Regions from separate parts of the Homo sapiens genome. Here region 1 is linked to region 2. Evidence: fine-mapped expression QTL. A gene starts in region 2. The other region holds a variant in brackets. All regions are shown on one strand. Distances are from middle to middle. Region 1 overlaps MACROH2A2 (macroH2A.2 histone). Region 2 holds the start of SAR1A (secretion associated Ras related GTPase 1A).

The links. PIP is the estimated chance that this variant, and not a neighbour inherited with it, causes the effect.
Region 1: its variant is fine-mapped to the expression of SAR1A in whole blood (TOPMed, PIP 0.98).

What each region holds. Positions count from the first base shown.
Region 1 is chr10:70,104,697-70,110,219 of GRCh38, forward strand. It overlaps MACROH2A2 (macroH2A.2 histone), which reads left to right. Exons shown (of 9, transcript NM_018649.3): 8 at 4,337-4,511. Among named protein-coding and RNA genes, the nearest start is that of AIFM2, 25 kb to the right of the region's middle. RefSeq lists an enhancer at 2,790-2,869. The variant C/T (reference allele first, on the strand shown) is at 2,876.
Region 2 is chr10:70,168,093-70,173,092 of GRCh38, forward strand. It overlaps SAR1A (secretion associated Ras related GTPase 1A), which reads right to left and starts at 2,422. Exons shown (of 7, transcript NM_020150.5): 1 at 2,321-2,422. RefSeq lists enhancers at 1,388-2,046, 2,047-2,703, 2,837-2,916 and a silencer at 2,347-2,706.

The DNA.
Region 1 (5,523 bases), 63 kb before region 2:
GAACCGCAAGCCAGTGCTCCTGAAGATTTGCAGCCAGATCCAGTGCAGCTCAAAACCTGAGGCAGAGAAGAGAGTGAGACATAGCCTTAGTTTGGTAGTGTCCCCAGGTGACATAGAAGGAAATGTAATTTCTTTCTGGAAGAACTCAGCTCCAGGCTGACAGCAGTTCTAAGATGCTTCCTGATTTCAACAATATTAAAATATTTAAACAAAAAAAAAGTGCATCTTAACATGGTTAAAACAGACCAACTGCAGTGCAGGCCCACCCTGTGGCAGGGGGTCGGGGAGGGTGGATCAAGAAAATATTTCAGGTGCAGAGTCAGTGAGAGGCAGCGATGCTGCATGTTCAGGGAGGCAGAAGCTGGAGCTAAGGTAAGTCCAGGGTTTCCAGGGCTGAGCAAACTGATGAAAAGTCAGGACTTTCATTCATTTGTTGAATATTGGAGCACCTGCCTGCCAGTGACTGTGGCAGGAGCCAGGCAGCAGCAAGGAATACAAAAGTGCTTCAGTGAAGATGTCAGCTGGGGCAGAACCAGTTCACGTTAAGCATCTACGGTGTGTGCTGTCGGGCGCAGGCATCAGGATGTGGATGTGATTGTAGGCCCTGAACACTCCTGAATTTTACAACCAGGCGGGGACCCCAGGGTAACACAGTACATCACTTAGCACAGCTGGCTGCTGAATTGCATGGCAGAGGCCCGGAGAGAATGGGCGAGGGAGTCAGGGACAAAGGAGGATAGCCAAGTGTGGAGACAGAGGTGCAGCCAGACCCATGTGTGCAGGGGACTGAGCCCACTGGCTGGAGGACGACTGGGCATCCAGAAAGAGCAAGAAATGGATAGACTCCAAGGGGAGAGGGGCCGACCATGAAGGGAGCCTGGGAGGACTGCAGTAAGGCCAGGGGGCAATCAGGAGCAGTTGCAGATTCTGAGTTTAAATGTGGAGTTTAAGGACCTTGGCTCCAGCAACCGTGTGGAGGATGGTTTGGCAGACAGAGGGCTGGGGCCCGAAGACCATCAAGAAAGCTGTATTGGATGAGGGTGGGGGTGGAGTGGGGGTGAAAATGAAGCACATGGGCCTGAAATGAGACAAGGCAGAGGAAACTGATGGTGTCTGCAGTGACAAAGAGGGAAAAAGGGGAATCGGGTTTCAGGAGTGAATGGCCATTTTACTGGGCACGTGTTAGCCCTGGGGCCCCAGAAAGGTCATGAGGTGCAGGTCCCTGTTGAAAGCTAAGGAGGAAAATGGCTTGCAGATGGCTGCTTAGGAGGTGGGGCTGCAGCAGAGAGAAGAGCACTGGGCCCAGACACGCAGGAAGAAGAGAGGCCATTGTGGGAAACTGAGGTGCTGTTAAAAGAAAACCCACAGTGTCACGGAAACCAGGCATCAGCAGTAGCAGCCTCTCAGCAGGACAAGGGGCCAACCTAGAGTCCCCTTTTGCTGTGGTGACTCCCAAGAACTGTGATGGCTCACCTGGGGGAAGGTTCTAGAAGCTCCCAGCAGCAGCACTGCCACCCTCAGAATGCAGGTCTTCACCAGGCAACATCACATTAGGTAAGAGAATGCCCCTAGTCATTATGTGGATAGGTGCTTATACCAAATACCAGGGTCACAGCCCTTGCAATAACTTGACCCTCATCCTTGACAACTCTGGAGAACATTACAAAGCATTATGGCTACAAGCTGTGTTATTCATTTCCAGTTGCCATGAACATACTTTGTTTTGGACTGAAATGTCATCGTGCACTACCCTGAAAGTCATTTTTTACTTGATTGGATGTTTGACATTGCCAATAGGAACATATTCCTTTTATTTAAAAATGACTTTTGGCTGGGTGCAGTATAATCCTAGCACTTTGGGAGGCCGAGGTGGGTGGATCACTTGAGGTCAGGAGTTCAAGACCAACCTGGCCAACATGGTGAAACCCCATCTCTACTAAAAATACAAAAAATTAGCCGGGCATGGTGGCGGGTGCCTGTAATCCCAGCCACTTGGGAAGCTGAGGCAGGAGAATCGAATCGCTTGAACCCGAGAGGCAGAGGTTGCAGTGAGCTGTGATCGAGCCACTGCACTCCAGCCTGGGCAACAGAGGGGCATCCTGTCTCAAAAAAAAAAAAAAAAAAAAGACTTTACATTAGAGGAATACCATTCTGCTAGTAACATGATTATACTTTTAAAATATATGAAATAAATCAGCCATGACTGTAACAAGCCAAACTCTGTCCGGCATACAATAGCAGCCAGGTGCTCGGGAAGATGGCACCATGCAGGCAAGGCCCATCTCCAGGGTCCTTGGTTCTCAGCAGAGCAGCCTCCAGTTTTAGGGGCATCATTGTTCAGTCCAAAGAGGGACACTCTGCTTCTGGTGCACAAATATACGTGGTCGTAGAGTCAGCACGCATGGCGGGCCCCTACCCAGGGCCTCGGTGTATTGTGTGGCCTGGGTCCTGCACTCAGGCGTTCACGTGTGATGACACTGAGCCCCGTCTAGGCACTGGAAGGCAGGGAGCCTACAGCCTCCCCTGATGGACGAAGGGGTCCCTTGGATTTGGCTTCTACCCATGTGAGGAAGTGCAGTCAGCACTTCCCTGACACTGTGGACATTGCCAGGAAATACTTATATAAACTAGGTGGGCATCATAGATTTCCAGTCAGTCTTTCACCTCAACCCCACACACAGCTCTGGAATACGGCGGACACACGTTTCTGTTACAAGTGCTGCCCCTAGTGGCCACGGACCCTTGCTACGCCGATTCCTGGGTTCCTGGAGGGGCACAGGGCGCAGACGGGCAGCGTGGGGGCAAGCATGGCTCATGGCTGAAGCTGCAGCTGCCTCAGGCAGATCCGAGGGAACTGCTCCCCTGGGGAGTCCCA[C/T]AGGGACTTCCCTCGAGCTTAGCAGCCACGGGGCTTTATCAACTCTGTCACCAATGGGAACCACATTTAGGGGAGTAAACAGTAAAACAAAGGAGTATGACAGAAATTGTGAGACAAGGCTGGCCTAATTCAGTTTCACAGCCCGCTTTTGAAACCCCACTCTCTGCAGGGCATGTGGAGATCATCAAATGGCAGTCCCTGTCAAGGAACTACACAATCAAGTTCAGTGGTTCTCAACTCATAGAAGGTCCTAAAATCACATAAGCATAAGCCCCTGCACCAGACCTACTGAGTCAGGACCTCTGGGTGGTCAGTACCCTGACTCTGTGGGGCCCAGGCACAGCTATTTTTTAAAAGCCACAGTAGGCCAGGTGTGATGGCTCACGCCTGTAATCCCAGCACTTTGGGTGCCTGAGGCAAGAGGATCACTTGAGCCCTGGAGTTCAAGACCAGTCTGGGCAACATAGCAAAACCTCATCTCTATAAAAAAATTTTAAAAATTAGCACATGCCTGTAATCCCAGCTACTCGAGAGGCTGAGGCACTAGAATCACTTGAACCCAGGAGGTGGAGGTTGCAGCGAGCTGAGATCGCACCACTGCACTCCAGCCTGGGCGACAGAAAAAGACTCTGTCTCAAAAAAAAACTAAAAATAAAAAAATAAAAATAAAAGCCACTGTATTCATTTCCTGTGGCTACTGTAACAAATTACCACAAAGTTCGTGGCTTCAGACAACACAAATTTGTCTTCTTACAGTTCTGGAGGCCAGAAGTCCACAATGAGTTTTAAGAGTCTAAGATCCAGGTGTTGGCAGGGCTGGTTCCTTCTGGAGGCTCAGGGAAGGATCCCTTCCTTGCCTTTTCCAGCTTCTAAGCTGCAACATTCCTTGGCTCCTGGCTGCATCGTTCCAATCTCTGTCTCCTTCATCCCACGGCCTTCTCCTGCCTTTGACCTTCTTGCCTCCCTCTTATCAGGTCCCAGGCTCACCCAGACAGTCCAGGATCATCTCCCCATCTCAAGAGCCTTCACTTAATCACATCTGCAAAGTCCTTTTTGCCATGTACGGGAACACCCACAGGTTTCAGGGAGGAGGACGTGGATGTTTTGGGATGCCATTACTTTACCTGCCACAGCCACCAGAGAGGATCTGATGTGTCCCTTTAACTAGGAACCATTGTGAGGAGGTAGCCCAACCCAGGGACTACTTGGCAGACCATATGAAAATGGCGCATCAGAGCAGCATTAAACGCTTCTACCCAAAGCTTGTGCTAACTGTGCAAAGCAATACAGCCCAGCTCTTGCTCTCGTTAAACATAGTCCACATCAGGAGCACAGGATGCTGCCCAGCCAACGTCTCTATCACTGCCTTATCTCCAGATCTAACAGGTACCTGATGAGGTTAGGCTATAACCTAGGAAACCTTAGGAAATAACCCGCGGCATTTTCTCTCCTATGTCCCAGCCGCCGTCAGCCAATCCAGTGGACTCGCAGCCAAATTTGTCATCCACTGTCACATCCCTCAGTGGGGCTCCGACAAATGTGAAGAACAGCTTGAAGAGACCATCAAAAACTGCCTGTCAGCGGCGGAGGACAAGAAGCTAAAGTCCGTCGCGTTCCCGCCTTTCCCCAGCGGCAGGTAAGATGCAGTTCCCCTGAGTTGATTCCTCCGGCTTTTTCCCTGGAAATCAGCTGCTCCCCCACTTACATCTGATCTGGGTGTTGCCAAGGGCTGCCAGCACAGCCAAGTATGCTGACCAGATGACAGGGCAGGAAACCCGGTTTTCATCCTTCAGAAACCATGGGGAAGCGAGCCCACTGGCTCCTAGGCAGCAGGTCTTCCCCGGCTGGGGCCAGCCCCAGTGCCTCCTTGATGTTAAAGCCCCAGGAGGAAGGCTAGCCCAGGGGAGGAGCGGGAGGCAGAGGCCAGCTGGTGTGTTATTTTTTGAGAGCCTTCCAGGTTCAAAGTCCATATTCCCACCAGCTGTCCATGTCCAGGACACATGATCAGAAAACGCCAGGCTCGAAGGCCTTGCTACTCAAAGTGTGGTCCATAGGCAGCAGTGACCGATGTCAGAATGCAGAATCTCAGGCCCCCCATCTCCGACCTCTGGCTCCAGAATCCCCAGAGAATTCCGTTGCTGCTCTGGGAGACTGCAGAGCCAGGAGTTCGAGGCTTTGATGAATACACCCAGAGAAGTGAAAATCTGTCCCCGAGTGATTGCTGAAAAGGAGACTGGGCAATGACTGGATTGTCACAGATCCCAGCTGGGCATTGTTTCAGATACATAATGAGGATATCTGCTGTCACATAAAACATATCCTTTCCCTTCATGCCCCTAGCCAATCTATTGCTTTAATTTTGAACACCCTCTCACCTTGAGAGCTGTCCTTTATAATATAGCTATGGTTTATAGCTGTGTCCTGGGAAGCCCAAGAGGAAAATAATGAGACCTAGGTTCCTGCTGTAATCACACATCAACCTAGGCAAGCAGCATTGAGTCTCAGCATTCCAGGCCCAGAGATGCTGTGAGATGCATTCTTTCGTCGGTGGAACCACGGCAGTGCTGTTCTGTGCTGGAATACATGCGATTGGGAAGAATTCCTATTAACAGGCCCCTCCTGGACCTGCTCCAGGGGTCTCTGTGGCT
Region 2 (5,000 bases):
ATTAAGGTCATTCCCACTCAGATCATTTTGGAGGGAAGAATTAAAGCATCCAAGTAGCTAAATCCCGGCTGCTGCTGATTTGTATGCTCCAAGGGAGGAGATGGCTTAAAAGCAGGAGTGTCAAAGGAAAATAAAATGGAAAATTAAAGTAGTTCAATTGCCATGAAAAACTATTTAAAGTGTGGCATTTTCTCCTTTTCACCTTTGCAGAATTCATCTAGTTGAAAATACTTGGCTCATGCCTGTAATCCCAGCACTTTGGGAGGCCGAGGCAAGTGGATGACCTGAGGTCAGGAGTTCGAGATCAGCCTGGCCAACATGGTGAAACCCCATCTCTACTTAAAATACAAAAATTAGCTAGGCATGGTGGGCGCCTGTTATCCCAGCTACTCGGGAGGTTGAGGCAGGAGAATCACTTGAACCCGGGAGGCAGAGGTTGTAGTGAGCCGAGGTCATGACATTGCACTCCAGTCTGGACAACAAGAGCAAAAACTCCATCTCAAAAAAAAGAAAGAAAGAAAAATTTCTAAAGTGATGTAAACATTTTTTACAAGTCTGTAAAGTATTGACTGAAAACCAGTGTAGTACAAATGTATATAGAAGTGTTGGGTTGTAAAGGAGTGATGAGAGTGGAGGCTGACTGAAGAAACTCTTCAGGTGAGCTAAAAATAATAAAAACCCTTACTAGATCCAAAGAGTCGGGTTGCACTGCTACCCAAAGTTAAGAAAATGCCCCCGCCCCCCTTTTCTTAAGACAGACCAAGACTCTGTCTCCAAGGCTGAAGTGCAGTGTTGCCATCATGGCTCACTGCAGCCTCAACCTCCCAGGCTCAAGAGATCCTCCCACCTCAGCCTCCTCAGCAGCTGAAAATGGCCTTGGTGGCTCCTCTCTCCTTAAGATCTTAGGATTTGTACCAACTCATCAGTAGTTTTACAATCTGCACAGTACTTGTACATCTCATTTCATCCCCACACCAACCCTACCAGGCAAGGATCACTGGCCTCATTTAACAAGATAAAGATGAGGATACTCCTAGTTTTGCTGAGTCCTTTAAGACGGCTCAGTTGAAAAAGTAATAGTGCCAGGGCTTAAACCCTCATCTCTAACACCAAAGCCTAAGCTCTTCCTGTTAACAGTACATAAAATTCAAACCCAAACCACAAAATTGCTGGGGAAAAAAAAAAAAACTAAAACTTCTTTAACCCACCAACTACACAGAGGATGATCTTCCGAAGTTCTCTTCCTTACAACTCATCACATCTTTTGAATGGTATTTTAATAACTAGCATTCTATTTATTTTCTATTCTTGGTCCATTGTACCACCTTACGAGAAGTTAAGAGTAATCTAAAATTTAAGGTAGGTCTCTAAACTATCAACAAAACACTATTAATGTACCTAAAATGAAAACTTGCGAATTCCAGGGCTAAATGATTCAAACAAATGTTAATAGAAAAGGAGGGCACCAATCTGACCATTAGCCAATTTAAAAATTTACGCATTACTTGTTATACATAATCAGGGCAACTTTAAGACGCCATTCCAGGCAGATTTGGGGTAGTAGGCGGCTGGCTTTTAGCTAACTCTGCTTAGCTGCGGGGTAAATGTCAAAGGTCAGCCCCATGGCGAATCTCCCTAAGCCCCCTGTCGCAACCGAAGCCGATGGAATCAACAAGACAAAGATGCTCCTGACCCACTGGCTAGAATCGTGAAGAAAACGCTAATCCATGTCAAATGCACATAAGGAAATTTTTCCATGCAGAGACCAGACAGGGGAAAAGGGGAAGGGAGAAGGAGAAAATACAGGGTTCGACCCGGGCCATCGGAAGACAACCAAGCGCTGACTTGGGGGTAAGCCCTGGACTAGGGGCCTGTAGACCAGGTTCGAGCGCTCACACTCGCTAACTGCGGAGCCTTGGCCAGCCTCAGTCTCCGAGTCTACAAAACAAGGATAATCATAAAGGGCTCCCACCCGCCTCACCGAGGGCTGTGAGGCTCTTCCGAGACAGAGGACATGGAGCCATTTCGTAAACCGGAGCGCACGGTACAGACAAGAAACTGTTATCCGGCCCAGCAGCTGCGAGACCCCCGAGCGGAATGCAAGTGGACCCCAGGCAAAGAGGACAGCAGGGGACGGAGCAGATCTGGCCAAGTTGTCCCGTCCCCGCCCAGAATCAGCCCCGCGGCCCCACAGAACCGCCTGCGTGTCACTTCCCCCCCACCCAACCCCGCCAGGGCCAGCCTCCGCTCCGACCTCCCCGCCTTCCGTCCCAGCCCCTCGAGCCCCAACTCCCCTCCCCGACGCGACCCTCAGACTCACGGCCTGAGGGGCTCCTCCGGCAAAACAGCGGCTGGCTCGGACCCTCCCTCAGAGCACACTAACCAGCAGCACCCGGGACCGCCAGCTACTCGCCGGATGTACGTCACACCCCTCCCCGGGACTTCCGGGCGCGTAATGGGCCCCGCCCCCTCACAGCGTTACGCCTCTCTGCCCCGGTGCCGTCCCACCAGCGACTCGGGCCGCGGAGGGGCGGGCATAAGGCGTGACAAAGCGCGCTCGGGGTCTGGCCCCGCCTCGGCCCCGCCTGCTCCCGTCTGGCTAGCTGACCGCGCGAGACGTGGCAGCGCCGGAACCCTGGGTCCGGGGCTGGGTCCTGGAGTCCCTGAGCGGCCTGGTACACTCGGGATCGCGGCTTCCCATTCCAGACGCACCAGGAAAGTCAGAAGTGGGTACCGACGGTGACATAGGTCCTGGGAAAGATGAGTTGACCTTGGGGCCCTCCACTTGAGGTGGATCCCTCCAAGCTTTTGCTTTTTTTCTTCCTTGCTTTTTTTTTTTTTTTTTTTTTTTTTGAGGCGGAGTCTCACTTTGTCGCCCAGGCTGGAGTGCAGTGGCGCGATCTCGGCTCACTGCAACCTCCACCTCCCGGATTCAAGCGATTCTCATACCTCGGCCTCCCGAGTAGCTGGAACTACAGGCGCATGTCACCACACCTGGCTAATTTTTTTGTATTTTTACAGAGACAGGTTTCACCGTGTTGGCCAGGCTGGTCTCGAACTTCTGACCTCAAGTGATCCGCTGGCCTCGGCCTTCCAAAATGCTGGGATGAGAGGCGTGAGCCACCGCGCCCAGCTGCTTTTGCTTTGAGTCGCACTTCCTTGCCCTGGGGTGGCCTATGTTTTAGAAAAACAGAAAAACAGCTAATATTTATTGTGCACTTATGTTCCAGGCAGAGCACTGGGTACTTTGCACGCTTTGTCTAATTTCACCGTCATTGGAGTCCTGTGACTCCAGATGCTAGTATTATCCTTATTGACAAATGAGAGAGCAATGTTCAGAATAACCTACCATGCCCAAGTTCACACAGCTAAGTGGCAAAGCAACGTGTTCACCCCAGTATATTTCGCATGCATTTTCTCATTTAATTCTCAGGACAGTCCCACGAGATTGGTACTATTATTACTCTCATTTTACAAATAAAACAGTCTAATGGAAAGATGAATGACGTCTGTGGGTTCATGAAGATCTCAATTCTCCTTTAGTAAAATTTAAATTTAACATAATCCCAATAAAAGTACTAATAGGATTAATAGGTCGTGTGTGGTTTCGTTCTTTTTTTTTAATTACCCTATTTGTTCCTAAAATTCGTATAGAAAACCAAACAAAACTAGTCCAGAAACAGGCTTTCAAAATGAAGAACAAGGAGGTGGGAACTAACCCTGTTGGATATTAAAACATATTATAGAGCCTAAGTTATTAAAACTGGTGTGCGTGCACATGCACAAACACACACACACAAAAAACACAATGGAACAGAGCAAAGTACAGAAATGACTAAAGTACATGCAGAAATAAAACTAAAGTAGCACCTGGGACTCCAGCAATACTCAGGGAGCTGAGTGGGCAAGCTCACCACCCTCTACCCTCCGCTCATCCTGGGGTCTTAGATGTTGAATTTGAACCCTGTCCTGTCACAGAAAGGTGTCAGGCCACTTCTGAGGCTTCTCACCAGCTTTAGCTAAACCAGGGACAATGTGTCCATGGGGCTTGGAACCCCTTGTGCATCCTGGAGACACAGATGCAAGCCCAGTGCAAGCCAACACATTGGATTACTGGCTTTGTTGAGAGCCTGGCTGCACGAGGTGGAGGTGTCTGAACCACAGGATGGCTTGGGAGGCTGGGGAAGGAGGGAACATGCAGGCAGATTCTCAGAAAAGCCGCAAACTCTACTTACCTAAAGGCTTGAGCAAGTTGACGAATGCCCCAGACCACCATGTACCCACTGTAAAATGGGTGAAACAGGCATTGTTGTGCACATAGTTTTTCCAGAGTACTGTTTTCAATAAATGATTCTGTTATGTGTTGTTAAATAAATTAATAAATAATAAAAGGGGTTGAGACAATTGGGTAGTCAAAAAAACCTACAGGTTGAATCTCCAAAAGTTTATTACTCTAAACAAGTTTCAAGTGATGAAAAGATGTGTGTATTTTGAAATGACACTATAAAGGTACTAGAAAAACAGAAGAAAGCATGGATTCCTTATAATTTTGCAATGAGAAGACCTTTCTGGGTATGATTGAAAATCTAGACCGGGCGTGGTGACTCATGCCTGTAATCCCAGCGCTTTGGGAGGCTGAGACTGGCGAATCACAAGGTCAGGAGTTCGAGACCAGCCTGGCCAACATGGTAAAACCCCATCTCTACTACAAATACAAAAAATTAGCCAGGCGTAGTGGCAGGCGCCTGTAATCCCAGCTACTTGGGAGGCTGAGGCAGGCGAATCGCTTGAACCCCTGCGGCAGAGGTTGCAGTGAGCCGAGATCACACCACTGCACTCCAACCCCGGGCAACAGACTGAGACTCCATCTCAAAAAAAAAAAAAAAAAAGAAAGAAAAGAAAATGTAGATGCCATAAAAGAAAAGATTGACAAATTTAACTACATAAAAATTAAAAACTTATATGGCATAACAACAATCATGACACCATAAGCAAACTCA